Homo sapiens: one gene and its partners. The protein of the gene in region 7 purifies or fractionates together with the protein of the main gene of each other region. This does not show direct contact. Each region holds a gene or a part of one and is shown on either strand. Other genes may lie near its edges. The genes, in order: HEATR3, STX18, USP46, FTSJ1, FARP2, NOCT and CHRM3.

The links.
Region 1: the proteins of CHRM3 (region 7) and HEATR3 purify together in Homo sapiens (affinity purification with mass spectrometry; 2 studies listed by BioGRID and IntAct, with this or other methods). This does not show direct contact.
Region 2: the proteins of CHRM3 (region 7) and STX18 purify together in Homo sapiens (affinity purification with mass spectrometry; 2 studies listed by BioGRID and IntAct, with this or other methods). This does not show direct contact.
Region 3: the proteins of CHRM3 (region 7) and USP46 purify together in Homo sapiens (affinity purification with mass spectrometry; 2 studies listed by BioGRID and IntAct, with this or other methods). This does not show direct contact.
Region 4: the proteins of CHRM3 (region 7) and FTSJ1 purify together in Homo sapiens (affinity purification with mass spectrometry; 2 studies listed by BioGRID and IntAct, with this or other methods). This does not show direct contact.
Region 5: the proteins of CHRM3 (region 7) and FARP2 purify together in Homo sapiens (affinity purification with mass spectrometry; 2 studies listed by BioGRID and IntAct, with this or other methods). This does not show direct contact.
Region 6: the proteins of CHRM3 (region 7) and NOCT purify together in Homo sapiens (affinity purification with mass spectrometry; 2 studies listed by BioGRID and IntAct, with this or other methods). This does not show direct contact.

The regions. Positions count from the first base shown.
Region 1 is NC_000016.10:50,082,862-50,086,911, reverse strand, and holds part of HEATR3 (HEAT repeat-containing protein 3), read right to left. Parts: intron 2,976-4,050; coding exon 2,885-2,975; intron 2,805-2,884; exon of another isoform or gene 2,779-2,804; coding exon 2,621-2,778; intron 2,344-2,620; coding exon 2,261-2,343; intron 698-2,260; coding exon 561-697; intron 1-560. UniProt on the Homo sapiens protein: Plays a role in ribosome biogenesis and in nuclear import of the 60S ribosomal protein L5/large ribosomal subunit protein uL18 (RPL5). Required for proper erythrocyte maturation.
Region 2 is NC_000004.12:4,437,291-4,441,340, reverse strand, and holds part of STX18 (syntaxin-18), read left to right. Parts: intron 1-2,831; coding exon 2,832-2,947; intron 2,948-4,050. UniProt on the Homo sapiens protein: Syntaxin that may be involved in targeting and fusion of Golgi-derived retrograde transport vesicles with the ER.
Region 3 is NC_000004.12:52,649,019-52,653,068, forward strand, and holds part of USP46 (ubiquitin carboxyl-terminal hydrolase 46), read right to left. Parts: intron 1-4,050. UniProt on the Homo sapiens protein: Deubiquitinating enzyme that plays a role in behavior, possibly by regulating GABA action. May act by mediating the deubiquitination of GAD1/GAD67.
Region 4 is NC_000023.11:48,482,699-48,486,748, reverse strand, and holds the end of FTSJ1 (tRNA (cytidine(32)/guanosine(34)-2'-O)-methyltransferase), read right to left. Parts: coding exon 3,955-4,050; coding exon of another isoform or gene 3,898-3,954; exon of another isoform or gene 3,795-3,897; intron 3,764-3,794; coding exon 3,731-3,763; 3' UTR 3,722-3,730; intron 3,509-3,721; exon of another isoform or gene 3,408-3,508; intron 1,014-3,407; 3' UTR 399-1,013; downstream 1-398. UniProt on the Homo sapiens protein: Methylates the 2'-O-ribose of nucleotides at positions 32 and 34 of the tRNA anticodon loop of substrate tRNAs. Requisite for faithful cytoplasmic translation.
Region 5 is NC_000002.12:241,485,088-241,489,137, forward strand, and holds part of FARP2 (FERM, ARHGEF and pleckstrin domain-containing protein 2), read left to right. Parts: intron 1-4,050. UniProt on the Homo sapiens protein: Functions as a guanine nucleotide exchange factor that activates RAC1. May have relatively low activity. Plays a role in the response to class 3 semaphorins and remodeling of the actin cytoskeleton.
Region 6 is NC_000004.12:139,022,121-139,026,170, reverse strand, and holds part of NOCT (nocturnin), read right to left. Parts: intron 1-4,050. UniProt on the Homo sapiens protein: Phosphatase which catalyzes the conversion of NADP(+) to NAD(+) and of NADPH to NADH. Shows a small preference for NADPH over NADP(+). Represses translation and promotes degradation of target mRNA molecules.
Region 7 is NC_000001.11:239,907,568-239,911,617, reverse strand, and holds part of CHRM3 (muscarinic acetylcholine receptor M3), read right to left. Parts: coding exon 2,394-4,050; 3' UTR 1-2,393.

The DNA of each region.
Region 1 (4,050 bases), on a different chromosome or scaffold from region 7:
TGTTGCCCAGGCTGGAGTGCAATGGCACAACCTCAGATCACTGCAATCCCCACCTCCTGGGTTCAAGCGATTCTCCTGCCTCAGCCTCCCGAGTAGCTGGGATTACAGGCATCTCCACCACCACGCCCAGTTAAAGTTTTGTATTTTAGTAGAGCGGTTTCATCATGTTGGCCAGGCTGGTCTCCAACTCCTGACCTGAGGTGATCCTCCCGCCTCGGCCTCCCAAAGTGCTGGGACTACAGGCATGAGCCACCGTGCTTGGCTGAGAATTATCCAAATACCTTAATGAGGCCTTTATGATATTTATGATACAGCCTTGACTGGCCTGATATAACTGGATGCAAACAATTTTAACAAAAAAGAAAATTATAAGCCCAGGAGCTGCTTGCATACCTCGTTTTGACTCTGTACCCCATGGCAACTATAAATACATGATTCCTGTGTCTGGGAAAGGTTTCTGCACATTGGATGACAAACAATATACATTTACAAAATCCAAATTCCTGCCCCTTCAAAATTCTGTTCCGTCTGCGTAGTCTTTCGCAATAAAGTCTAAATACCTGGTTGAGAAAAAAGCAGCTGTGACAGATGCTGTGCAAGCGTCTGAAGGGCTGCGGCTCCTCCCAGGTGCTCCACATCCAGGAGGGACACAAGACTCTGGAGACAGAAGAGGGCTCTGCACTGAATAGTGTTCATTCTGGAAAGGAAGTGAAACAATGCCATCTGATTCTCCAGAAGTTGCCCATCAGAATTCAGTATTAACTTTTAGCCTAAGCTTCACGTTCTGACTGGAAATATCTGTAAATACAAGGTATCTATGGCAGTTAGCAAAGAATCACAAGGTGAACTGTTTTTTGTGTTTTCTAAAATTTATCATCATTTTTTAGACAGGGTCTTACTCTGTTGCCCAGGCTGGAGTGCAGTGGTGTGATCACAGCTCGCTGTAGCCTCAACCTCCTGAGCACAAGTGATCCTCCTGCCTCAGCCTCCTAAGGAGCAGGATTACATGTGCATGCAACCACACCTGGCTAAGTTTTTTATTTTTTGTAGATAGGGGTCTTGCTATGTTGCCCAGGCTGCTCTGGAACTCTTGGCCTCAAACAATCCTCCTGCCTGTACCTTCCAAAGTGCTAGAATTATAAGGTGAACTGTTAATCTGCCAAATCAAACTGCTTGAATATTCACGGCCTCTGATACACAACTCATTCATGAGTCATGAGGAATATGTTTTAGAAAAATTTCTATGTAGGGTAGCATCCTTAAAATTATAATTTTCTTCAGACAGGGTCTCATTCTGTTTCCCAGGCTGGAGTACAGTGTCACCATCATAGCTCACTACAGCCTTAGACTGCTGAGCTCAAGCAATCCTCCCACTTCAGCCTCCTAAGTAGCTAGGACTACAGCTGAGTGCCACTATGCCAGGCTAATTTTTGTATTTTTTTTTCCTTTGTAGAGATGGGGTCTTGCTATGCTGCCCAGGCTGGTTTCAAACTCCTGGCCTCAAGTGATCCTCCTACCTTGGCCTCCCAGAGTCCTGGGATTATAGGTGTGAGCCACCATGCCCAGCCTAAAATTATTTTTAATTGTGAAATGTGACATATATACAGTTAAGTACACAACATACATAGAGAGTTTAACAAACAGTCTATGAAACCAAAACCCATGCACCTGGGAAAGAAATTAACACTGCTGGACCCTGAAAGCCCCTGTATCTCTTCCATATAATATCCCACCTCCCTGACACCTACAGGTAAGCACCATACAGACTTCTATGGTAAACATTTCCTTGCCTCTTTTTTTTTTTAATAGGTTTATCACCAAGGTATGCATCCCTGAACAAAATAGTTCAATGTTGCCTGTTTCTCAACTTTGTAAAAACTGAATCACAGTGTGTGTATTCTTTTATGTCTCGCTTTTTTGGTTCAACAATGTAAGTTCCATCCGAGTTGTGAGTAGCTCTAATTCAGATCCCTTTTACTGCTGCATGTATTGTACTGCGTGATTTTGTCAAAATTTATTTACCATTCTAACTCTGATGGACAACACGTTTGTTTATGGGTTGGGGCAACTGTGACACACACTGCTATGAACACTCTCATATACATGTATTCTAGGGCATGTGGGCACATATTTTTCTGGTATATATACCCAGGAACAAAACTTCTGGGTCCTAGGGGGAGTCAGCACCTTCTATTTAATAGCCCATCATTTCATAAAATAAAATAATGACAAATGTTTTTGAAAGCAGAAGAGTTCTTACTTTCTAATCAAAGGTTTCCAAGTAGGGTTCCTAGAACATAGGTCAACTGCAATGCTGTTTGGAAAGGCAGTTTTCTCAAAAATCTAGATTTAAAAGAGGCAGTAAAGCAAAGGTTAAAGAGTAGTCATTTAACACGATTCCCTTACATAATTCCAACATATTACTCCTAAGTGAAATGGTTAGGCTTCATATAGAATGACCTTTTCGCCTATTTCCAGTACTGTTAGGCTCAGCTTTGTCTCAGATCTTACCACCATCTACAACCTGGAAGTGTGAGCTTGCTTCTTTTGTACACAAAATGAATACCTTGCTTAAGCCTTTCCCATGCTCCACGGTAAGCCTAGAATGAAAATGGATTACCTTCTTTGGGATGAGGTAGTTGGTGAGAGCCGTGTGAACTTCATGGGAGAGGCAGAGGGGAGAAAACAGCTGTCCCCCGCACTCACTGAAGGAATTCTCCATAAATGCGTCACTTTCATCACTGCTAGAAAGCTCTTCCCATTCGTCATCAGAGGGATCTGGGAAGCGGGCAAACCACGCAGAACTGGAATAGTTAAGAAAATCTCCACGGGAGTTTCCCTCTTGGCTCAGGGGGAAAATGTCTAAATGTAAATGTTAACAAACCTTCATTGCAGCACATGTTGACAATAATTTCCAGAGCAGTCTGTTGGGCTGTCAGCAATGCTATAGTCTCTCTCAGTTCCTTGTCAGTGGGCTTAAAAAAAAAAAAAAAAGTAAATGACCAACTCTCAATGGTTGGGAAAATGTTTTTGGGGAATTTCCTTAGTGAAAGCCTACTAGAAGATTTTTGCGCTTGGAATAGAGCACACGGGGAATGGGGTAGGTAAAAGAAAAGTCATGAAGTGCCAGAAGTACAAACGAGCATTATAATTCCTCTTGGTACAGTGGAGCATGCCCCCGTTAACTGGGTTTCCATCTATCTGCATGGCTATTCCCCAAGCGTCACTTAGTTAGCTGGAGAGAACAGACAAATATTCAGGAATTCTGAACAGAATTCACCCTGAAACTTATCTACTGTGTCAAGAAGTAGCTGGGCATACTAAGATTTAAACAAGAGTTCATTTCAGACACCAGGCACTTAGAAACACCAAACCTGCTTTTAGATGCTTAGCTTAGATGTCTTTCTTGGAATGGCTGCGCTAACACACACTACTAACGAGCCCTTATGTGACCTGTAGAACTTGCTATGGAGCAGACAGACTTGCTTCCTGCCTTTCTGTAAAGACTATAATAAAGCATTTCTCTAAGACTAAAGAAAGAAGGAAGCTTTTTTTTTCTCTGAAAATATATAACGCCAACTTAAACTTAACATTATCAACCAACATTTCTTAAAATGGGTAATATAAATTTATATAACCTTAATTATCAAATTGTCTATGGAAAGTGAAATAACCATACTGATATTCCAAAACAGTACATGAGCTAAAAATAATGTATATTTTACTATTTGAATATTTCCAAACTTCAGTTTTCAATTGTCTTTTTTTTTCCCCCTTAGAGACAGAGTCTCACTCTGTTGCCTAGGCTGGAGTGCAGTGGCACGTTCATAGCTCACTGCAGCCTCAAATTCCTGGACTCAAGCAATCCTCTTGCCGCAGCCTCTGAGTAGCTAGGGCTACAGGTGCATGCCACCATGCCTGGCTAATTTTTTTAATTTTTGTAGAGACAAGGTCTTAGCCAGGCATGGCGGTGCATGCCTGTAATCCCAGCTACTTGGGAGGCCAAGGCAGGAGAATCCCTTGAACCCAGGAGGCAGAGGTTGCAGTGAG
Region 2 (4,050 bases), on a different chromosome or scaffold from region 7:
TCCAAAGAAAGCTGCCCCCAAATAGATCCCATACCACATGCTCTTCTTAAAAAGTGATGTTACTGCTCCATTGAGAAAGCAAATTGGAGTCTGTGTTTCTTCCCCTTGAACTCCAGTGGACCATCGTGAATGTGTTGGGCAGTAGAATATGGCCAGAATTATGATTTCTGACTTCTAAGGCTAGGTCATGAAAGGCACTGAAGCTTCCACCAAAGTCTTTAAGACTGCCAGCCCTGCAGGCAGCCAGCTGCCATGCACCAGTAACACACTCATGCAGCTCCATGAAGAAGAAATGAGGCTCCCAGCAAGCACCAACTTGCTAGCCATGTGTGTGGCCTCCTTGGAAGTGAACCCTCCAGCCCTGGTCAGCCCTTCAGATGACTGCAGCCCTAGTTGCCTTCTAACTGCACCCTCCTGAGACACACAGAGCCAGAACCACCCAGCCAAGGTGTTCCCAAATTCCTGACCCCAGAAGCAGTGATCAGTAATAAATCTCACTGTTTCAAGGCACTAAGTTTTATGACTCAGCTGTAGTAACCAGAACAATTAAAAAGATTGATAACAGTGACTTTTGAAAAAATTTTTTGTTAAATTTTGTAGAGGACCATTTCCTAAATAGTCTTTTTGAGAAAACTGCTCTCAAAAAACTCTGTGAAGAGAGTGTCTGCAATCAGGTTATTTGCAAATACCATCCTTTTTGGAAATTCAAAATGTATTTGAGCATATTAAAGGCTCTGAAAACTTATATAGTGAAACACCTTTCTAGCTTTGACTCAGCTTTCTCAGACTGATTCGACCACAGAAGTCCTTTCCCACAGCCCAGGATGGGTAGAATATACCCCACATGGAGCAGTTGTTACGAGCATGGGCTTCAGAGCTAGGTTCCCTGAGGTCATGTCCCAGCCCAGCCATTTGCTGACTGTGACCTGGGCAAGTTTCCTAACTTCTCTACACCTCAGTTTCCTCCTTTGTTAAAAGGTTGTTAATACTAGTACCTACCTGATGGGGATATTCGAAATTAAATAAATTTATCCATACAAATTGCTTAGAAAAAATGTCCACTATATGAGCCATTAACAAATGTTAGCTGGCATTAGTAATATCACCCTAATATGCATTTACATTGTTCCTTTAATTACAGTCTCTCTGCCTAACAATATGGAATTTATCCTAGATAGCACTCTGCCTATAATTTTATAGCATTTATGTAGATTCTAGTAAAGCTATTACAAAGCCTGTTATTGCATAACCTAAACGTTTTCTTATTAACCAGTTACTTGTATTTATAATGCACTCATTCATTCAACATATATTTATGCAATGGAATACCAGGCACTAATCCAGAATCTGGGATCTAGGAGCAAGGCTGACAACCAACAGATAAATAAACAGGGGGATTATAGACTGTGATAACTGCTATGGAGAAAACAGATGCAGAGGAGTGGGAGGCGGCCTTTCCTTCACAGAAGAGTCAGAGGTGGCCTCTCTGAGTAGGTGAAATTGAGCTGAGCCCTGTAGATGGGAAGGAAGACGATGCCCTGGGAAGAGCCCGTGGGGAAGAAACAGGGGAATGCCAAGTGCAGAGGACTCAGTCCTGAAACAAGTCTGTGCCTTCAAGTGGGTATTTAAGGACTTGTGCTTTCAGAGCTAACTTATATTAAGATGTGACTTAGAACATATACGTGTGTGGGTATAGGTATATATATGTGTGTGTATGAGTATATATGTTGGGGGGTATGTGTGTGGGGGTGTGTGTGTGTATATATATGGGTAGGGGGTATATATGTGTGTGTTTCTGTGTGTGTATGTGGGAGTATATGTGTATGTATATGTGGGGGTATATATGAGTGTGTGTGTGTATGTATATATGTGTATGTAGATATATGTGTGTGGGGGAGGGTATATGTGGGGGGTATATATACATATCTGCACATATATGGTGTGTGTGTGTATGTAGGGGGTATATATGTGAGTGGGGGGTATATATATGTAGTATATGTATGTGGGTGTGTATATATGGTATGTGTATATGTGTGGGTATGTGTGTGTATATATGTGTGTGTGTTTATGTGGGTGAGTATATGTGAATATATGTATGTGGTGTGTGTGTATATGTGGGGGATATACATGCATGTATGTATATATATGGGGTATGTGTGTATGTAGGGGGTTATATATGTGTGGGGGGTATATATATGTGGTATATATATTGTGTGTATACATGTGGGGGTATGTGTGTGGGGGTATATGTGTGGTGGTATATATGTGTGTGGGTATATATGTGGGAGGGTATGTATATATGTGTGCATGGGTATATATATGTGGTATATATGTGTGTGTGTGGTGTGTGTATATGTGTGGGTATACATGTGTTGGGGGTATATATGTGTGTGGGGGTATATATATATATATGAATATATGTATAATATGTATTATATATTATTATTAATAACATACTCAGCAATCTTTTTGCATTAGTGTCAACTACTGGGTAAGCATCAATCCAGCTTCCTGGGTTTGTTGAGTGCGGTGTGTCAGTCTATGGAGCGTATTCAGCACATACCAACTGCAGCCTCCCCCTGCATGCTGGTCACTGTGCCGTGGCTGCAAATGCAGAGGGCATGCACAATCTCTACCCTGCAGGCAATAATGCCAGTGTTAAGTGCCCCAGTGGAGGTGTGTCCGGATGGCCACTGGGCCCAGAGGCAGTGACTGCTCCCCAGTACAGGGACACAGAGCAAAAGCGCAGGGTCACATGTGACTCCTTCTGTTTTCAAAAAGGAATCCTGTTATGGAAATAAAATACCTGCCTGCTAATTATTTATTTTTAGATCTAAGCTGGAACCAGAACCAAATACAAAGACAAGAGAATCCACATCTTCTGAGAAAGTTTCACAGAGTCCTTCAAAAGACTCTGAAGAAAACCCTGCCACTGAAGAACGTCCAGGTACGAATTGAGATGAAAATCTCACCTTGCATTTCTTCCTTGTGACATGTTGGCAAGAGTACAGCACAGGAACGAAGTAGCACAGTCTCAGACATGTTTTGGTGTTTGTATTTGCATAAAGCAAAGGAAGCAGGAGGCGGCAGCCTTTGTGTCTGTCACAGTTGATCTTCGTGAGTGCCACAGAGGCAGGGGGTGCATTCACCCAGTCACCTGGGAGCTGGCGGGGTCCGGGAGAAAGGGCCTGCTGGAGGGGTGAGGCCGGGAGCTGTCTGCCTCAGGAGCCCTGTGTGCCGGCCTCAGGAGAGGCAGCATTGCCTCCCTGGCAGCCATGCCCTGCATGTCAGCTCTGAGCTGCCAGGCCTGCATCCGGGTAGAGTGTATAACCTCAGCAGCCTTGCACAGCCAGTCAAACCAACAGGACAAAATGCAAATCTGAATTGACGTGCTGCCTATCACCACAGATACTAGAGGGCCCATGGCTTAGAATAGTTCCTGATGCACAGGAGATGCAGAAGAAATACAGGGTCTCCATGAAGTCCGAAAATGTAGGGGGACATACACAGTGTGGTCATGGATGTCTGCGATCTGTGTGTCTGGCTGGTACCCCTGCGTAGGGATGCCTGCATAGTTTGCCATATCTCAAAGGCAGAGTGGAGCAGGGTTCTTTGTGTGAATCACAGGGTGATGGCGTGCTGGAGCCAGGAGAGACCTGGGAGTCCCCTTTAGCATCCTTCTCCGTAGTCTCATGGCAGTTCTTATTAACTCTTGTCTTCCAGATGCTAGGCATGGTCCTGGACATGTCACAGAAATTACAGGTTGAGTATCTCTTATCTGAAATGCTTGGGACCAGAAGTGTTTTGGATTTAGGGTTTTTTCAAATTTTTGCATATTTGCATTGTCCTTACCAGTTGAGCATCTCTAATCTGAAAACTAAAATCTGGAAAGCTCCAATGAGTATTTCCTTTGGGTGTCACATTGGAGCTCAATAAGTTTCAGGGATGTGATTCCTGCCCTCAGGGAGCTCACAGTTGATGGGAAAGATAAGGCTCTAGCCCCTGGGAGAAAGTAAGTAGTACCTCAAGAGAGAGCAGAGGGCCAGGGAG
Region 3 (4,050 bases), on a different chromosome or scaffold from region 7:
CTCCCAATACCACAGAAACAGGGCCACAGGGCCCCCTCACCACCACAGCACCCAGTCAGAACCAAACCATGCTGTGAATTTGGCCTCTGCTTTTGCCAACTTCCTTCCCCAATGTCACTCCTCCCAAAGTGCCCCACTAAATGTGGACAGCAGGTCAAAATGGAAGTAGAATTTCACTGGATCCTGAAATACCAACAGCTTTGCACTTTGAGCAAACAGAAGGAAAATAATGATGAACTAAAAGAGTGAGAATAATTATGAAAACTAACAAGCATGAAGGCATCATAGCTCACACAGTGCTTCCATGGGCAGGATCTCTTCTGATGCTCCCCAAAAAGCTTTAAAGAAGGTATTTCATTGACTACCTTTGTTGTAAAAAGATAAATAGGATCTGAGATTTACCAAACAGGATTCTGAATTCCAAACTCCTCCACTTTACAACTATATGGAAAATAGAAGTTGTTTTGTTTTTCCCAAAGCCTTGCTGCTCTAAAAATGGTCCCGAAACCAGCATTATCTGTACCACCAGAGAGTTTGTTAGAAGTGCAAAATCTCCGCCCTGCCCCAGACGTGCTGAATCCAAATTGACATTTCAACTAGACCTCCAGCTAATGCCTATGCATGATAAAATTGGAGGCATACTGCTTTACTCCAAGGCAATTCTTCCATTCTACCAAATTACATCCCTTCATTCATTTATCAATATTTATTTATTGAGCACCAACCACATATGTGCTAGGCACTGTGCTGACAGCTGGGAAATCAACACTGAATAATACAAATAAATACAGTTCCTGCCCTCATAGAGTTGTCAGTCTAACATGGTGGTTTATCAACCTTGGATGCTCACATCGGAATCAACTGTGGCACTTAAAATACACACACACACATACACACGCAGGTGCCTAAAATTCACCCCAGACTACCTATATCTACATACTGTCAGAAACGCTGGAGACTGGGACCCTAGAAACTGCATGTCAATAAAGCTCCAATTGGTGGAACCACTTTGGAGAGCAATTTGACACACCTAGCAAAGCTGCAGATGGGCGCATCCTAAAAGCAGCATATTGACTTCCAGGATTATACCCTAAAGAAATGAAGACACCTGAGCAAAGAAGACAGAAGCAAGAACATTCGCTGCAACACTGTTTCCAGAGAGAATATTGTAGAAACTACCAAACTGCCCCTAAATAAGAGAATGAATAAGTAAACCATGGTTAAGTCAAAGAATCCTGTTACAGAGCAGTCAGAATGAATAAACTCGACCTCTATGTGTTGACATAATCTCAAATATACTTGTTGAGTAAAGAAAGACAGTTGCAAAAAGCTACACGATTTTATCCACACACAAACGTTGCAATCCATTGCTTATGAATTCATAAATACAAAGTAAAGTATAAGACATGTTTGGTAAACACCATATCAACTTCAGGAAAATGGTTTGCTCTGGGAGGAAGAGAAAGGAAAGAGATTGGGTTGAGTTAGTGTCTGTTTTTAAGGTAAAAGAGTCTAAAAAGAGTTAGTGCTGTTTTTACAGTAATATGTCTAAAAATAAAAGTAACCAAATATGGCTACATTTTAATATCTGTTAAATCTGAAGGGTAGGTAAACATATATAACATTATTTTTTCATGCTTTTTTGTATGTTAATGTTTTGTGATTTAATTATTATTTTTAAAATTTCTTTTAAAAGCTTCACAGGTGATATGATATAAAGCCAGTGCTGAAAATCTCTGTTCTGAATATATAAACTAATACAAAACCTGGCTATTTAATACCAAGAAAAAGTTAAGTTGGCCGGGTGCAGTGGCTCACGCCTGTAATCCCAGTACTTTGGGAGGCCAAGGTGGGCGGATCACGAGGTCAAGAGATCAAGACCATCCCAGGCAACATGGTGAAACCCTGTCTCTACTAAAAATACAAAATTAGCTGGGCAAGGGGGCACGTGCCTGTAGTACCCTACTCAGGAGGCTGAGGCAGGAGAATCGCTTGAACCTGGAAGCAGAGGTTGCAGTGAGCTGAGATCATGCCACTGTACTCCAGCCTGGCAACAGAGTGAGACTCCATCTCAAAAAAAAAAAAAAAAAAGAAAGAAAGAGAAAAAAGAACAGAAAAAGTTAAGTTACTAGCTTAAATAATTTTACATTCATTTTTTTAAAAACTTTCACATGGCAGGTAATTTCTTAAGCAATATTTTTTAAGAGGCTGAGGTTATTACCCAAGGGAAGCAATATTTCTCCAAGCATGGTCCTCAGCTCACCTATAACAGAATGTGGAGGGAGTAGAAGGAGGAGGGAACACTAATTTAAAAGGCAGATTCCAGAGCCCCAACTAAGACCTACTTAATCAAACTCTCTGGGTGTTGAACCCCAGAGTCTAAATTTTTAATAAGAGAATGCACATGTGGGAACCATTCTTTGGTACACCAAAGAACCTAAAACCATACATTTCTTTGTTTAATGAGGTAATACTCATCATACTCTGAAAATTAAAATGAAGTGTAGAGAATACTTTCTAAATATTTAAGACAGTAATTCCACCAGTATATATTCAAGCAGATCCAGATAAAAATTTTCCTGCACTGTGTACCTAACCTGAAGGACAGAGAAATGTATTTTAGGAAGATGACCATCGTTTCACAATGCCTTTCTAAAAGAACTTGAAAAAGCAACTGGGTAAACAGGAAAACTCTGCAAGTCCAGCTTTGCTGCTGTTCTCACCAGAACAGGCCCCAGACACGATTTTCACTAAAGCCAATGTCAATTAAACAAAGCAAATGTGGCTTGAACAAGGCCTTGCTGGCACAGGCAGGTCTCCCAAATTTACTCTCAAAATTCAAGGTATCTTCTCAGTGCTACTCTATTATCTTTTTGTTACTAGTTTTCACCCCTCCACAGTGATTATCTTGTCATCATTTTTTTCACCTGCATCTTCCAATCCATCCCTACCTTTCATGACTTTTGCTTTGGTCTCCTTGATTTTCCTCTTCACTGTCCCTTCTTCATTGTCCCTGTTTTCAGACAAAACCAAAACTACAATCCTGACTTTCAAGACCTGGAAAACTGTTCTCAGGCCCCTGAGTTGAAAACAAACCAGCATAACAAACACATGAAAAGATGTTCAACCTCCCCTAGCAAACAGGAAAAGTGCAAATTTTAAACCACAAAGGCACAATGTCACACCCATCAGACTGGCAAAACATCAAGTCTAGCAATATCAAATATCTGCAAACATGTGAAGCAACTGGAACCCCCAAACGCTGCTTGGTTGGAATGCAAATTGGCATAACTTCTTTGGAGAGCAATCAGGCAACTTATTAAAGAAGACGATCAAATTCCTTTGACCCAGCAATTCCCTTCCAGGTTTACACCACAGAGAAACTGTCAACTGTCAACTGTGTATACTATACACAGGGAGATGAGTTCACAACTGTTCATTGCATTAAAACAGCACACTCACAAATTTGTAAACCTGCTTACAACATTAAAATGAATGTGTCATAGCATATTTATATAATGGAATGTTATACAGCAGTTAAAATAAACTAGGATTATGTGTCTCTCAATGGATAAATAGCAAAATCACAATTTAAACAATAAAAGCAAACTGAGAGGAATGTTTAATATTATAAAGCATGTTTAAAACATGAAAAAATACACTATATCTAGTTTATGAATGCATACAAATCTAGTAAAAATATAAAAATATACAATAAACACTAAATGCAGAATAGTGGTCACTCTGTGGGGAGAGGCAATGAGATCAGGAAGGACTCATAGGTGGTTTTAAATGTATATATAGTATTTTATTTCTTCACTGGGTGGGGAGTACACGAGTATTCACTCTATTATTCCACATTTCTGTATGTCTAAAATTCACCATCACTCAGAAAAAAAGGCAAAGTCTGAGCTAATTTAAAAAGTATCTGAGGGTTCTAAAAGTGACATTGGAACTTGAGGAAGAAAAGGAAGGTTGGCCCTATGAGGGTAAAGTGAAGCTTTGGCGACCACAGAGTCCCATCACCATGATCTTAAAACTATCCATTGC
Region 4 (4,050 bases), on a different chromosome or scaffold from region 7:
TGGTTCACGCATGTAATCCCAGCACTTTGGGAGGCCGAGGTGGGTGGATCACCTGAGGTCAGGAGTTCGAGACCAGCCTGGACAAAATGGTGAAACCCCGTCTCTACTAAAAATACGAAAATTAGCCGGGTGTGGTGGCGGGTGCCTGTAATCCCAGTTACTCGGGAGGCTGAGGCAGGAGAATCGCTTGAACCCAGGAGGCAGAGGTTGCAGTGAGCCAAGATCACACCACTGCACTCCAGCCTGGGTGACAGAGCGAAATTCTGTCTCAAAATAAATAAATAAATTTGTTCTGCAGAACCCTTTGGCATCTGGTTAAATCTGTGAACCCCTTCACAGAATATTTTTAAAAGTATATACATACACATACACACACACACAATTACAATGGAAGCCAATTACATTGAATTACAATTATTACTATATATTAAATTGAAACAAAATTGAGATGCAGTAATATATGGGCTTTTTAATTAATACATCAACTTACAGGATCTGCTATCATTCCAAGAGGTGACAAATATGAACAATACTTCAAGATGCCCTTTTTATGTTACATTACAGTTGCTGTAACTGGTTTGTATTGGTGGGAAAATCCCAGGTACTGCTTTTACTACTGTGATTTGTTGCCAGCATTTATAACTTGGGAGTAAGGCTAAATTTCAGTTTCATTGCTGAAAATAAAGATGTAACATTTTCTTCCATCAAGTTCATGGTTACCCCTGGCTTCTATCCAGGTTAAGAATCCCTGCCTTTAGGGAAAATTCTGGACATAATCAGGACACTCCTGAAGAGGTTTAAAGAAGAGGTAAGACCTCACTCAAGAATTCCCACTGCAGTACAGACAGACTTTCATGGTTTCTTTCCTTGTTGTCTTCAGGGTTGTTGCAGATCCCTCCTCAGGGCTTGTTTGTCCAGGCCTCGTTGATGAGATGATATTTTGAAAACAAGTTCATCAACAAGTTCCGGTTTTCCTGACATTGAGCAGTTTCTGAGTTGTATCAGTTTGCCAGCTAACCAAAAGTCAAAGAAAGTTTTTTTGTTTTGTTTTGTTTTTTTAGAGACAGGGTCTTGCTCTGTCACCCAGGCTGGAGTGCAGTGGAGCTCCATCATAGCTCACGACAACCTTAACCTCCCAAGCTCAAGTGATCCTCCCACCTCAGCCTCCCAAGTAGCTGGGATTACAGGCAGGAATGTGCCACCACACCTAGCTAACTCTGCTGCTAACATTTTTGTGACATTTCCTCCTTTTATGGTGAACCATGACATATAGAAAATGCATAAAACCTATATATGTTCAGTTTAATGAATAACTACAAGGTGTTATTTGGTGTAATTGCAGGATGTTCACTGTCATTGTTGTACAGTTCTCCACGGTGAATGTACCACGATTTAATGGGCATATACTATAGATAGTGCTGCTAGCAACACTCTAGGACTCATTTCCTTTTTTTTGAGATGGAGTCTGACTCTGTCACCCAGGCTGGAGTGCAGTGGCACGATCTCAGCTCACTGCAACCTCCACCTCCCAGGTTCAAGTGATTCTCCTGCCTCAGCCTCCTGAGTAGCTGGGATTACAGGTGCCCGCCACCATGCCCGGTTAATTTTTGTATTTTTAGTAGAGATGGGGTTTTGCCATGTTGGTCAGGCTGGTCTTGAACTCCTGACCTCAGGTGATCCACCCACCTCGGCCTCCCAAAGTGCTGGGATTACAGGCGTTGAGCCACGGCACCCGGCCTCTAGGACTCATTTCTTAGGAGTGGAACTGGCACACATGCAGCTTTAGTAGGTAATGCCTAAGTTTCCACAGTGGCTGCACCATTTTACCTTCCCAGTAGCATGTACGAGGCTTTCAATTGCTGCATATCCTTTCAAATACTTAGTGTTGTTGATATTTTGAGTTTTCACTTGTATTTTCCTGATGAGCAGCTTTTCATGTGCTTACTGGCCACTCTCATGTTTTTCCTTATTGATTTACAGGACCCTTTAAATATTAAAAACTGTAAATCTCTTTCACACAATGATTTGCTGTTTCAATTTTTTCTTAAGGTGGCTTCTTGTGGCCAGGTGTGGTGGCTCAGGCCTGTAATCCCAGCACTTTGGGAGGCCTGAGGCAGGCAGATTTTGTGAGGTCAGGAGTTTGAGACCAGCCTGGCCAACATGGTGAAACCCCGTCTCTACTAAAAATACAAAAATTAGCCGGGTGAGGTGGGAGCACACGTCTGTAATCCCAGCTACTCAGGAGGCTGAGGCAGGAGAATCTCTTGAACCCGGGAGGCGGAGGTTGGAGTGAGCTGAGATAGTGCCACTGCACTCCACCCAGCCTGGGCGACAGAGCGAGACTCTGTTCTCAAAACAAAACAAAAAACAAAACAAAAAAGGCCAGGTGTGGTGGCTCACACCTGTAATCCCAACACTTTGGGAGGCCGAGGCAGGTGGATCACCTGAGGTCACGAGTTTGAGACCAGTCTGGTCAACATGGCAAAACCCCATCTCTACTAAAAATACAAAAATTAGCCATGCATAGTGGCGGGCACTGTAATCCCAGCTATTTGGGAGGCTGAGGCAGGAGAATCGCTTGAACTTGGTAGATGGAGGTTGCCGTGAGCTGAGATCATGCCACTGCACTCCAGCCTGGGTAACAGAGTAAGACTCTGTCTCAAGAAAAAAAAAAAGGTGGCTTTTTGTGATGGCTGACTTAGTCTGAATAACCTGCTATGCCATTGTCAGAAAGGGCCATCCTCTAACATCGTGGTTTTAGAACATTTGGCTATGGATAAACTTTCCTCCCATACCACGTGCAGTTCCACCTTTGGGACATGCCTATTTCCTTTACCCAGAATGCTCTTCCCTCAGATAAACACATGGCTTCCCTCCGGCAGTGCCTTCAGGTCTTTGCTCAAACATTACCTCTGAGGAATGTCTGAGGCCTTCTATGACAACCCTTTTAAAAAGTGCAAACTGGCTGGGCGCAGTGGCTCATGCCTGTAATCCTGGTACTTTGGGAGGCCGAGGATGGCAGATCGCTCGAGCCCAGTAGATCGAGACCAGCCTGGGCAACATGGCAAAACTCCATCTCCCCTAAAAATACAAAAATTTGCTAGGCATGGTGGTACATGCCTGTAGTCCCAGCTACTTGAGAGGCTGAGGTGGGAGGATTTTTTGAGCCCGGGAAATCACACCACTGAACTCCAGCCTGGGCGACAGAGTGAGACCTTGTCTCAAAACAAAAACACCAAAAGATGAAAACTGCCATGCCTAGAATTCCTGATTCTCTTCACCCTGCTTTACTTTTTTCTATTTTTTATATCCCATATTACTCTTATATATTATATATATTGCAAGATATGTAAATTGAGAAATGCAAGCTATATAGTATATATGTGTATGTAAACTCTTGCACTTACAGACTGTTTTGATTGTTGCCTCTTTTCCAAACTGGAAGTACTGTGAGAGCCAAGATATTTCTGTTTTGCTCCCTGCTCTATCTCCAAACCTAGAACAACACCTGACATACAGTATGTGCTCAATAAATGTTTACTGAATGCCTCAAATGTAAAATGCTTAAAGCAGTTCCTGGCATACAACAACAGATGTTTAGAAAAGGGTTTGTTGATTAAAATCTTATCAGTTGACATAAAAATTTCAAAGGTGAAATTTTACTGAGGTTTTTCATAAAGGTTGCCCTTACTCAAACTCTTAGATAACAAGGCAAACTTACCGTAATGGGTTAAGGTGAACAACTCATTTCATTGTCTTCCATCTACCCAAGAAAAAGAAAAGTGACTCACATATTTGGCGAAACTTTTCCATTCATTATGCTTGGCTTTACCAATTTTTTATAGCTATTGGGAGGCAGGAAAGGGAATTTTGGCCCCAGAAACCATGAGATTTGGGTCAGAAAAAGGCACACGGGGAAGGGGTCAAGGCAGGCTGAGAGTCACATTTCCAGACCTCAGGGGCCAGCAGGGTGTGGCACTGAGGGGCGGCCAGGGGCTGGGGAAACGTGTCCACTCTGCTGATGGGGCAGTCCTGGGGGCGGATCTCCTT
Region 5 (4,050 bases), on a different chromosome or scaffold from region 7:
TCACTCCCTCCTTGTGGTCCTCCCTGTCAGTGATCTTCTCTCCTTGAGATCCTCCCTTCTTGTAATCTTCCCTCCCTGGGGTCCTCCCTCCCTCCCCAAGGTCCTTCCTCACTCCCTGTGGTCTTCCCTCTCTGGTGTCTTTCCTCCCTGTAGTCCTCCCTCCCTGGGATCCTCCTTTCCTAGGATCTTCCCTCCCTAGAGTCCTCCCTCCCTCCCTGGGATCTTCCCTTCCTGGGATCTTCCCTCATTCCCTGGGATCTTCCCTTCCTAGGATCTTCCCTCCCTCTCTGGCATCTTCCCTCCCTGTGGTCCTCCCTCCCTGGGATCCTCCTTTCCTAGGATCTTCCCTTCCTAGAGTCCTCCCTCCCTCCCTGGGATCTTCCCTCCATCGGCTTCTCCCTCCCTCCCTGAGGTCCTCCCTCACTCCCTGTGATCTCCCCTTCCTGGGATCTTCCCTCCCTGGGGTCCTCCTTCCCTAGGATCTTCCCTTCCTGGAGTCCTCCCTTGCTCCCTGTAGTCCTCTCTCCCTGGGATATTCCCTCCCTGGAGTCCTCCCTCCCTGAGGTCCTCCCTCACTCCCTGTGATCTTCCCTTCCTGGGATCTCCCTCCCTGGGGTCCTCCTTCCCTAGGATCTTCCCTTCCTGGGGTCCTCCTTTGCTCCCTGTGGTCCTCCCTCCCTGGGATTTTCCCTCCCCATGGTCTTCCTCCCCCAGGGCCCTCCCCCAGTAGGGTCCTCCTTCCCTGAGATCCTCTCTCCCTGGGGTCCTCCCTCCCTGGAGTCCTTCCTCCCCCAGTGGGGTCCTCCCTCCCTGGGGTCCTCTTTCCCTGTTCTTTCTTCAAGGGTCTTATCCCTCTGCACTGCCTCCTCCTGACAATGAGCGCCAAAACCCTCAGGCAGGTGTTTGTAAAATTTAATTCCACTTCTCAGGCCCTCAGCAAGAAGAGGTCAGTTTGAATTAGCTCATCTGCCACCACCGGAAGCAGACCCCATTTGTTTTAAAGTATACTTTTAAAAATTACACCTTTATTATAGAAAAAAATAATTGAAAGTATAAGACAGAAATCACTCATCACTGGCCAGTTGCTGTGGCTCACGCCTGTAATGCCAGCACTTTAGGAGGTCAAGATGGTAGGATCGCTTGAAGCTGAGAGTTTGAGACCTGCCTGGGGAACATGGCGAAGCCAAATCTCCAAAAATCTTTTTTTTTTTTTTTTTTTTTTAATTAGCTGAGCAAAAGTGGTGTGTGCCTGTAGTCCCAGCTACTTGGGAGGCTGAGATGGGAGAATCACTTAAGCCCAGGAGGTCAAGGCTGTAGTGAGCCGTGATCGTACCACTGCACTCCAGCCCCAGTGACAGAGTGAGACCTCGTCTCAAAAAAAAAAAAAAAAAAAAAAAAAACACAGAGAAAAGAAACAAGAAAAAGAACTCTATCATCGTACCCACTCAGCAGTGATGGCTGCAGGCATCTGCTGCATGGTTGCCATCACCCACGGGCTGTTTTGTCAGGACACTGGTTTTCCTTTCCTTTCATGGCAGCCCCAGTTCACTTAACTAGTCACCTGTCACTGGACGCTTGGCTGTGGCTGGTTGTTGAGGACTGTAACATTGTTGGATCTCTGTCTTTCTGCACATCCTTAATTATGTCCTTCAGATCAATTCCAAAATGTAGATTTGTCTGAGCAAAGGTGTTTACGGCCTTGGGCACTCCTGCTAAATTGCTGTTGGAGCACCTGCGCCAGCTGACCTTCCCACCTGCAGGAGCTAGGTCTAAACATGCATCTTTCCCTCCACCATGGAAAGTGCTAGGCACCTGTCTCTCTTACTCTTCCCAAGTGGGTAAGGTAAGCAGCCCCATCGAGCAGCCCCATCATTTCACTTTGCATCCCTGCGGACTGTCGGTGAGGCCAGCCTGGCCCCTGTGTCCTGGCATTCCATGCTTTTCCTCTCAGGAATCACTCAGCGTGCTGGTCACTCTGGTCTCCATTGGTCTGTGAGTTTTTTGTACACATTAGTGAAATGTTTATATGATAATGCTCACCAACACTATTAAGTCACAAATTATTTTCTCAGTAACTGCTTTTTACTTTGCCTACAATTTAGTTTTACCTTGTAGAATTTAAACTCCATCTTGATGGGTTCTGTTTCTCTTACTCTAGAATGGCATCTGGCACATATAGGGAACCCAGCAAATGCTTGTTGAAGGTGTGAATTGAAACAGACACTCCTCAACTTATGATGGGGCTATGCCCTGATAAACCCATTGTAAGAGGAAAATAGTATAGTCAAAAATGCATTTAACAGGGCACGGTGGCTCACGTCTGTAATCCCAGCACTTTGGGAGGCTGAGGTGGGTGAATCACCTAAGGTCAGGAGTTTAAGACCAGCCTGGCCAACAGGGCGAAACCCTGTCTCTACTAAAAATACAAAAATTAGCCAGGCGTGGTGGTGGGCACCTGTAGTCCCAACTACTCGGGAGGCTAAGCACAAGAATCACTTGAACCTGGGAGGCGGAGGTTGCACTGAGCCGAGATCACACCACTGCACTCCAGCCTGGGTGACAGAACAAGACTCCCTCTCAAAAAAAAAAAAAAGAAAGAAAAGAAAATGCATTTAATACACTTAACCTCTCTGATGTCATAGCTTAGCCTAGCCTACTCTTTTTTTTTTTTTTTTTTTTTGAGATGGAATCGCTCTGTCGCCCAGGCTGGAGTGCAGTGGTGCCATCTTGGCTCTCTGCAAGCTCCACCTCCCGGGTTCACGCCATTCTCCTACCTCAGCTTCCTGAGTAGCTGGGACTACAGGCGCCCGCCACCACGCCTGGCTAATTTTTTGTATTTTTTAGTAGAGACGGGGTTTCACCGTGTTAGGCAGGATGGTCTCGATCTCCTGACCTCGTGATCCACCCGCCTCGGCCTCCCAAAGTGCTGGGATTACAGGCGTGAGCCAGCCTAGCCTACTCTAAATGTGCTCAGAACATACATTAGCTTACAGTTGGGCAAAATCATCTAATATGAAGCCTATTTTATAACAAAGTGTTGAATATCTCACATAATTTGTTGAATACCAAACTGGAAGTGAAAAACAGAATGGTCGTATGGGCACTTGAAGTTCCGTTTCTACTGAATGCTTATCACTTTCACACCATCATAAAGTTGAAAAATCAGGGCCTATCAGGGTCAGCTCTGGCTGTCTTTTCCTTGAGGGTTTCTATCCTTAGTATGGGCTCAGGAAGTTCTTCCCCATGCCAATATTATATTGGCACCTTTTAATGGTTTCAGTTTTCTCATTTAATTAATCTCCCTAGAATTTGTTTTTTTACTTTTTTGGTTTTTTTTTTTTTTTTTTTAGATGGAGTCTTGCTCTGTGTCCCAGGCTGGAGTGCCCAGGCACGATCTCGGCTCACTGCAAACTCCGCCTCCTGGGTTCACACCATTCTCCTGCCTCAGCCTCCCAAGTAGCTGGGACTACAGGTGGCTAATTTTTTGTATTTTTAGTAGAGACGGGGTTTCACCGTGTTAGCCAGGATGGTCTCGATCTCCTGACCTTGTGATCCGCCCGCCTCGGCCTCCCAAAGTGCTGGGATTACAGGTGTGAGCCACCGTGCCTGGCCTAGAATTTGTTTTGATAGATATTAGATTGAGATGTAACATTTCTCCCCATTATTTGTTGAATCCTTCATTTTCTCACTGATCTCAGACTTTATCAAATGGAAGCCTGTGTCTTTGCACTCGAGTTCTTTCTGGGCATTCTGCTCCATTCCTGTCTGTCCAGCATCAGTCCACTCTCTCTCATTAGTGGTGTCATATGAGATAGTCACTGTTTGGTGAACACATTCCATCCCTTATTCTGCCTCCTTTTAAAAAAGATTCTTTGCTATTCTCAAGCATTTAATTCTTCCAAGTAATCTTCTAAGTCATTGGACAAATTCCTTACAAAAACACCATGGAGATTTCAGTTGAAATTGCATTAAATTTTTGTGTTAACTTACGGGAAGACTAACATCTGGACAATGTTTTGCCTGCCCTTGCTTATGTTGATTCAGATTTTT
Region 6 (4,050 bases), on a different chromosome or scaffold from region 7:
GAGATTGCGCCACTGCACTCCAGCCTGGGTGACAGAGCAAGACTCATCTAAAAAAATAAATAAAAAATAAAATTGTATAGTCCATTTGGAAGGCAGCTATGCTCACCACTAGTCTATTTGTATATATATCATAAAACCAATAAAAGATGTTTAGTCACTTAAAAAGGAGGGGAAACAATTTTCATATACAAATTCCCAGTGCATTGCTTGAATAGTTAAGGCACATATTAAAAAAAGAATATGTTGCATATCATTGGGCAGGTTGGTTCTAGGCCAAGACAGCAAAGTAGAAAATACATTTACTTTCTCTCCTTCCTAAGATCTTGAAGAAATAAAGTGCCTATATTTAAATTTTTTTTTTTTTTTTGAGACGGAGTCTCGCTCTGTTGCCTAGTCTGGAGTGCAATGGCGCCATCTCGGCTCACTGAAACCTCTGCCTCCCAGGTTCAAGCAATTCTCCTCCCTCAGCTTTCTGAGTCGCTGATGGGATTACAGGCACCCGCCACCACGCATGGCTAATTTTTGTATTTTTAGTAGAGACAGGGTTTCACTATGCTGGCCAGGTTGGTCTGGAACTCCCAATCTGCCCGCCTTGGCCTCCCAAAGTGCTGGGATTACAGGCGTGAGCCACCGCGCCTGGCCTCTTTAAAATTTTTTAAAGAATGCATCAATAACATTGGAAAACAAGAAGGGATGCATGACATCAATGGAGCAAATATTTGGAGGAATTCCAAGAAGACAGAAACAAGTTTGAATTAACAGAGAAACCAGAAGGAAAGGGCAGTACAAGTTACCAAAGGTAAATGTGGTTTTCCCAAGAGCACCTTGAAGAAACTCCAAGCTGAATCAAGAAATAGAAAGGGCAGGAGAAGCTGAGGGGGTAACTGTTAGGGCAATTCGTTCAAGAATGAAAGTGAACGGTGGCACTAGTTACATGTGTCCCCTCTCTCACAGACAAAGCCGGGAAGGGTGGCTTTTGGTTGCTCCATAGAACCAAAGAATACCCCAAAGAAAATGGGTGATAGCCTTAGAATGGCTTGCAAAGGTGAATGGACCTGAAAGAGAAGCAGACCAGATCAGGAGCTAACTCTGAAACTCAAGGATGGTTTTAAAAAGCGGGGAAGGGGTTGGACTGAAGAATATAGAAGGAAACCCTCCTTTCTTTGACAAAGGCGGTAGTTACCAGCCTGCTCCCTCTCACGCATTCAACAAGGAAGCCTGGCTGCCCGTTCTCCAGATTACCTTCCCACTCAGAACATGCAAAACTGGCTGGGCGCGGTGGCTCACACCTGTAATGCCAGTATTCTGGGATGCCGGGGTGGGCCGATCACTTGAGCTCAGCAGTTTGGGACCAGCCTGGCCAACACGGGGAAAACCTGTCTCTACTAAAAATACAGTAACTGTTGTATTACTGGGCCAGGCATGATGGTGCATGCCTGTGGTCCCAGCTACTTGGGAGGCTGAGGTGGGAGGAGTGCTTGAACCAGGTTGATGGAGGCTGCAGTGAGCTGAGATCACGCCACAGCACTCCAGCCTGAGTGACAGAGCGAGACCCCATCTCAAAAAACAAACAAACAAATAAAACAACATGCAAAACTCCCTTCCTCTCCAGGAAAGAGGCCTAAAGGAGAAACAGGCACACACACATCTTGATATATTTAAAGTACGAGAGACATTATAGACACAAAACAGGTTTCTATGAAAAAAGGAGCAATTAAACAACTAGAAATGTCTAGGAATTTAAAATGACTGCAGAACAAAAATTTTCAGAAAATCTCATGCAACAGAGAAGAGATAAAAACACTAAAATATGAATGGAGGCCTGGCTAGGTGCCTCATGCTTGTAATCCAGTACTTTGGGAGGCAGAAGCAGATGGACTGCTTGAGCCCAGGAGTTTGAGACCAGTCTGAGCTGAGACCCGTGTCTCTACAAAAAAATAAAAGTAGGTAGGCATGGTGGAGCACACCTATAGTCCCAGCTACTTCAGAGGCTGAAGTGGGAGGATCACTTCAGCCCAGGAGTTGGAGGTTACAGTGAGCTATGATCACACCAGTGCACTCCAGCCTGGGTGACAAAGTGGAGACTCTGTCTCTAAAATAATTTAAAAAAAAAAAAAAAAAAAAAGGATGAATAGACACGGAGGATAGATCCATATGGCCAACAATCTAACAGGAGTTCAAGAACATGAGAACAAGAGACAATACAGTAGACAACCGATACAAACTTTTAATGTGCTAAGGCATGTCTTTAGATTGGATGGGCGCATCAGATGCTGAGACATTCAACCTGATGGATCTTTTGAATACCAAAGATAAGGAAATCTTGTAAGCTTCTACAGATAATCAATACTCACAATGGTCTTTAAAAGTTCAGAGGCAAGGCCGGGCATGGTGCCTGTAATCCCAGCACTTTGAGAGGCCGAGGCGGGTGTATCACCTGAGGTCAGGAGTTCGAGAACAGCCTGACCAACATGGCAAAACCCCGTCTCTACTAAAAATACAAAAAATTAGCAGGGCATGGTGGCAGGGGCCTGTAATCCCCAGCTACTCGGGAGGCTGAGGCAGGAGAATCGCTTGAACCCGGGAGACGGAGGTTGCAGTGAGCTGACATCGCGCCATCGTACTCCAGCTTGAGGAACAGAGCAAGACTCCATCTCAAAAAAATAAAATATTAAACTAATTCTAGAACTAAGTCTCAGAGAGTCTATTTGACCTACAAGATTTGAAAGATAAACATTTTCCTTCAGCAGACCTTCAATGATAATTAGCATCCATAAAAGCAAAACACACAAGAGGAAATAGAAAAGTATTATATCCCAGGTATTATTAGAATCTGCAGTGTAACTTACTTTGCACCCTGTACTAGACAAGATATTTGCAGTCACAAGCATATTTGCAGATCGGCAAACAGAGCTGTTTAAGTACTGGAACCTCAGAGTTGGAGGAAAGATAGAAAAGGGAAAGGAAGACAGCTAGAAAGGATGCATCAAGACCAAGGAATTTCCCAGATATCCTTCCGGAACAATTCTTATTGTCACTTTGGATGCATCATAACTTCTTTTTTTTTTTTGAGATGGAGTCTTGCTGTGTTGCCCAGGCTGTAGTACAGTGGTACGATCTCAGCTAGCTGCAACCTCCACCTCCCTGGTTCAAGCAATTCTCCTGCCTCAGCCTCCCGAATAGCTGGGATTACAGGCACACACCACCAACACCCGGCTAATTTTTACATTTTTCATAAAGATGGGGTTTTTGCCATGCTGCCCAGGCTGGTCTCGAACTCCTAACCTCAAGTGATTCCCCCCACCTCCTTGGCCTCCCAAAGTGCTGGGATTACAGGCATGAGCCACGGTACCCGGGCAGCATCGTAACTTCTAAGCACTTATTTTCATGGACTTGCCAAGAGCTCAAGAGCAGCCTGGGCAACACAGTGAGACCCTGTCTCTACAATAAATAAAATAAATATTTTCCTTTCTGCACAACTCTCCACAATCCAACAGTGGTCTCTAACTTTTGGACAGGAGAATCACATCACTGAGAGACTTAGAATAGGCTTCTAAGCATTTAGTAAAACGAGCCTCCTCACAGGTGTCCGCCTGTGTTGTCAATATGTGGCTGTTGTCTACCCGGAGCCTATGTCAGAATCAGCAGATGCTCAGGCCCCACTTGGAGATATTAAAATCCAGAAGATCTGAATGGGACCCACGCATTTTTTTATATACTGGAAGGAGAAAAAAATTGTTATAAGGACATTCAAATTGGATGGTACCAATTTTGTTTAGCCTTCTTTCCCCTGGGCACTGTTGCCCACATACCTGACACTGAATTCTTGCTAAGTATTAATATATGATTCAAGTGTTGCTTTGAGGCCACATAGATACAGAGGACAGCTAAGGTTTTCACTTGAGGTCTCACTCCCTCCGTGGGAAGGCTGATTTTCTCCCATTCTAAGAATAACAATAAATAAAAAGTATCTTAGCTGCTTTCCGTGGAAGTCCAAACAGGTTTACTATGAGGCTAAACGCCCAGGCACACTGTCCTTCAAATTTCTAA
Region 7 (4,050 bases):
CTCTCAAAGTTCTGTTAAATTTCAGGGTTTCTCCTTTTCTCAAATTTAATTCTATTTCTTTTTTTTTTTTAATAAAAGAAACAGCCCTTTTGGGAGGGAGGCAAGATAGGAGTTTCCAAAAGGATGGGAAGTGCTGAAGTACTGGGACACTTGAATAAGCTTTCACATATTTATTAGTGCCAGGCCAACTTGAGAAATAAAATATAGATGCAATTGCTTACTAGATGTTTCACAGGTGGATAATATGACATTCTGTAGTTTGCTGTGTACATATTAGAAAATCGTCTGTTTCTTTCTTGTTCTTTGGTTGAATGTGGGCCCAAAAAAATCATTCTTACAATTATGCTGATTGTTTTTTTTTTTCCCTGTGTAAAATGATTTCAGACACAATGGTGGAGCTTTGTTCAGTTCCCATCAGATTTAACTAAAGAGTGGTTTTAAACATTTACGTTGAAGTGACCGTTGACTTTTTATTACCTAGAAAGAGTTAGGTGCTTGGTGATGCCAACAGGATGACATGTTTCTTCTTCTTAGCCACAGGAAAGCTCCAATATACTCTATTCATTGCTCAAGTGGACCTTAAAGAATCACTTTGAAAGGACACCATGGCTGACGACTGAAGAGTCATATTTATCAACATTAAATAAACACTTGGTGTAGTATCCATAAATATTTCTGCATATAAACATAACACGAAATTAAATAGTTCAGATACACAGACACCACTGAGTACACTTCTACTGTTGTCAAAGTCGTCTGTAAACACCACCTCACACTGAATACAAAAGCAGCTTCTACCCAGCTCTGGGTTCACAACACGAATGCCCTGTACAAAGGGAAGATATCTCCGCGGCCCTCCCACCTCCCTCCCCTCCCTCTCCCCAAACAGCCCCGGCAACAGGAAAAGAAACCCCAACAGCTACAGCAGCAACAACAACGACAATGATGGCAGCACCCCATCCCCTCCCCAAATGAAACAGTTAACATTTTGGTCAATTCAAGGGAGAATGCAAAAAAACAATTTTTTTTTTTTCCCAAAAGGTAAGGAAATCAATTTGAAGCATTACTTTTCAGAGTGTAATTCTTTCTTCAGAGGACATGTAACTTCCTAAAACCTCACCTATTCCTGGGTGAAGGTTACACAATGAACACCAGAAAGCACTGGCCACAGCTGATTAACAAAGGTGCAAGCCCTATTTTCTTTGAGAAGGTGCCATTCAGCAAGAATCAAACACAATGTTCTCCTTCATTCTCTCTTACCATGTTTTTTTTTTTGCTTTGCCATATATATATATATACACATATATATATATTGCTGTGTATGACATTCAAACGTGACACTATTATTGAGTTTCAAGCAGTTTAGATAGCAGAAATTTTGTTCTGAAACATTCAGATTTAGATGATTAAATTCAAACGTGTGGATGTGGTTCATTCTTTGAGCTCAGAGGGGCCCCGATTTAGCTCTGTTGAGACATCAACAAAGGAGGTTGCTTAACACCAAGTCTGGCGAAGCCACGGCGCTCAGCTGACTCACGAGCCTGTCCGCTCTGCACAGACCTGCTGGGAAGGCCTGGCTGCTCTCTGTGGAAAACAGCCCTGGTTTCAAAAACATTACACTGGGCTTATTTCACGTTAATGTTGCATTAGGATCCTAGAGAACTTCAGTTACCAAAGTACTGAAAGCGTATGTTGCAGGAATAATTTGCCAGTTCAGTGTTTCCCATGATATTATATACACTATGTGTGTGCGTGCAGAACTCACACATATATATATACTTAAGTATTTTTATTTGTACGAAACTTGAACTGCACAAAACAGTACTTTGCAAGAATCAAGAATCAAGTCCACAAATAGAGTTTAACAACACACCAAAGAAAAGACAGGAAGCTCTATTGGGACAAGAAGATTCAGCTTTGCAACGTATGAAATAATTTTGGAACCACAGATTCGTAAGCCTGCAGTGTTCCACTTGGGGTCTGGATTCCCACTTTTGGGATCCTTGGGAAGAATGTGGGAACTGGGTCAGCTATGCTCATCTGAGATTCCAAAGCTAATGGGAATTAAAGGACCCAGGCAAATCACTTTGGGTATATAATTGCCGTCAAGCAATATTTTTCTCCTCTTTAAGAAAAAAACACGTAAAGTCTATTTCAGAATAAATTTCTTTATATTCAGTAGTATGTTTTTTTTTTCTTTTTGCTGAATTGGTATTGACTTTTTCTATTAAAATGGGTTTATTCAATGGATCAGTAAACAGGCAGCTTCTTTCACATCTGGGTGATAAAACCATTTTTATCATCACCAGAAGTCACCCCGCCCTCGCCTTCCTCCTCCTAAGGTCTGTGGGTTGATGTGTGCGTTTTGTCACTGCTATTGATACAACCTCATTCTACAAGGCCTGCTCGGGTGCGCGCTTGTGAAAAATGACCGACTGTCTCTGCTGGTACTGCTGCTTGCGCCTCTTTTTTTTGTCACACTGGCACAGCAGCAGCATCTTGAAAGTGGTTCTGAATGTTTTGTTGCACAGAGCATAGCACACGGGGTTCACGGTGCTGTTGATGTAGCACAGCCAGTAGCCCAGATTCCAAAAGGTTTTGGGTATGCAGCTGTCACAAAAGGTGTTCACCAGAACCATGATGTTGTATGGGGTCCAAGTGATGATGAAGGCAAGCAAGATCGCACTGAGGGTCTGGGCCGCTTTCTTCTCCTTGACCAGGGACATCCTTTTCCGCTTAGTGATCTGACTTCTGGTCTTCAGAGCAAACCTCTTGGCCAGAGTGGCTTCCTTGAAGGACAGAGGTAGAGTGGCCGTGCTCTTACCCACTGAGGAGTTGACGTCAGAAGTCTTAGCTGTGTCCACGGCTGACTCTAGCTGGATGGGAAGCTTGGAGAAGCTTTTTGGAAAACTGCCTCCATCGTCCACGCTCTTCTGGGCCTGCAGCTTGTCGGCTTTCCTCTCCAAGTCCACCATCCCCAGCTCCTCCTCAGGCACCTGCAGGTTGTCCGATGAGGGTAACTTGGTGGAGTTGAGGATGGTGCTGTGACCCGGAAGCTTGAGCACGATGGAGTAGATGGCTCTCGTCTCGGAGCCAATGTCCTCCTCGTCGGAGGAGGCGGAGTTCTCCAGGGAGGCAGCAGCATCATTGTTGTTCCAACTGTCACTGCTGCTGTGGTCTTGGTCCATCTGCTCGGAGCTGGGTTTCCAGCTCTTGGTTGTGAACCAGAAGTGGCAGCGGCCATACTTCCTCCTGTTGGAGCGTTTCATGCTTTGCTGTTGAAGTTCGTAACTGCTGCAGCTTCGAGAACTGCCCGTGGGGTGGACAAAGTTTTCTGTCTCTGCCTCTGTCCCAGAGGCTTGCAGGCCAGCAAGCTCTTTGGTACGCTTTTCAGTTTCCTTATAGATCCTCCAGTATAAAATAGTCATAATGGTGACAGGCATATAAAAAGCAGCGATGGCTGTGCCAAAAGTAATGGTGGGCTCACTGAGGAACTGAATGAAGCACTCTCCCGGAGGCACAGTTCTCTTTCCAACAAAGTATTGCCAGAACAAGATGGCAGGAGCCCAAAGGACAAAGGAGATGACCCAAGCCAGACCGATCATCACACCGGCTCTCTTTGTTGTTCGTTTGGCTCGGTACGTGAGCGGCCTCGTGATGGAAAAGTATCTGTCAAAGCTGATGACCAGAAGATTCATAACAGAGGCATTGCTGGCTACGTAGTCAATGGCAAGCCAGAGGTCACAGGCCAAGTTCCCTAAGGCCCATCGATTCATGATGATGTAGGTCGTAAACAGATTCATTGAAATGACCCCGATAATCAGATCGGCACAGGCCAGGCTTAAGAGGAAGTAGTTGTTGACCGTCTTCAGCTGCTTGTTGACCTTAAATGACACAATTACCAGGATGTTGCCGATGATGGTCACCAAGGCCAGGATGCCCGTTAAGAAAGCGATGAAGACCACTTGCCAGACGGTATGACCTCCCAGAGGGTCATCGGTGGTACCGTCTGGAGAGGAGAAATTGCCAGCTGCTCGAGAAACATTGTAG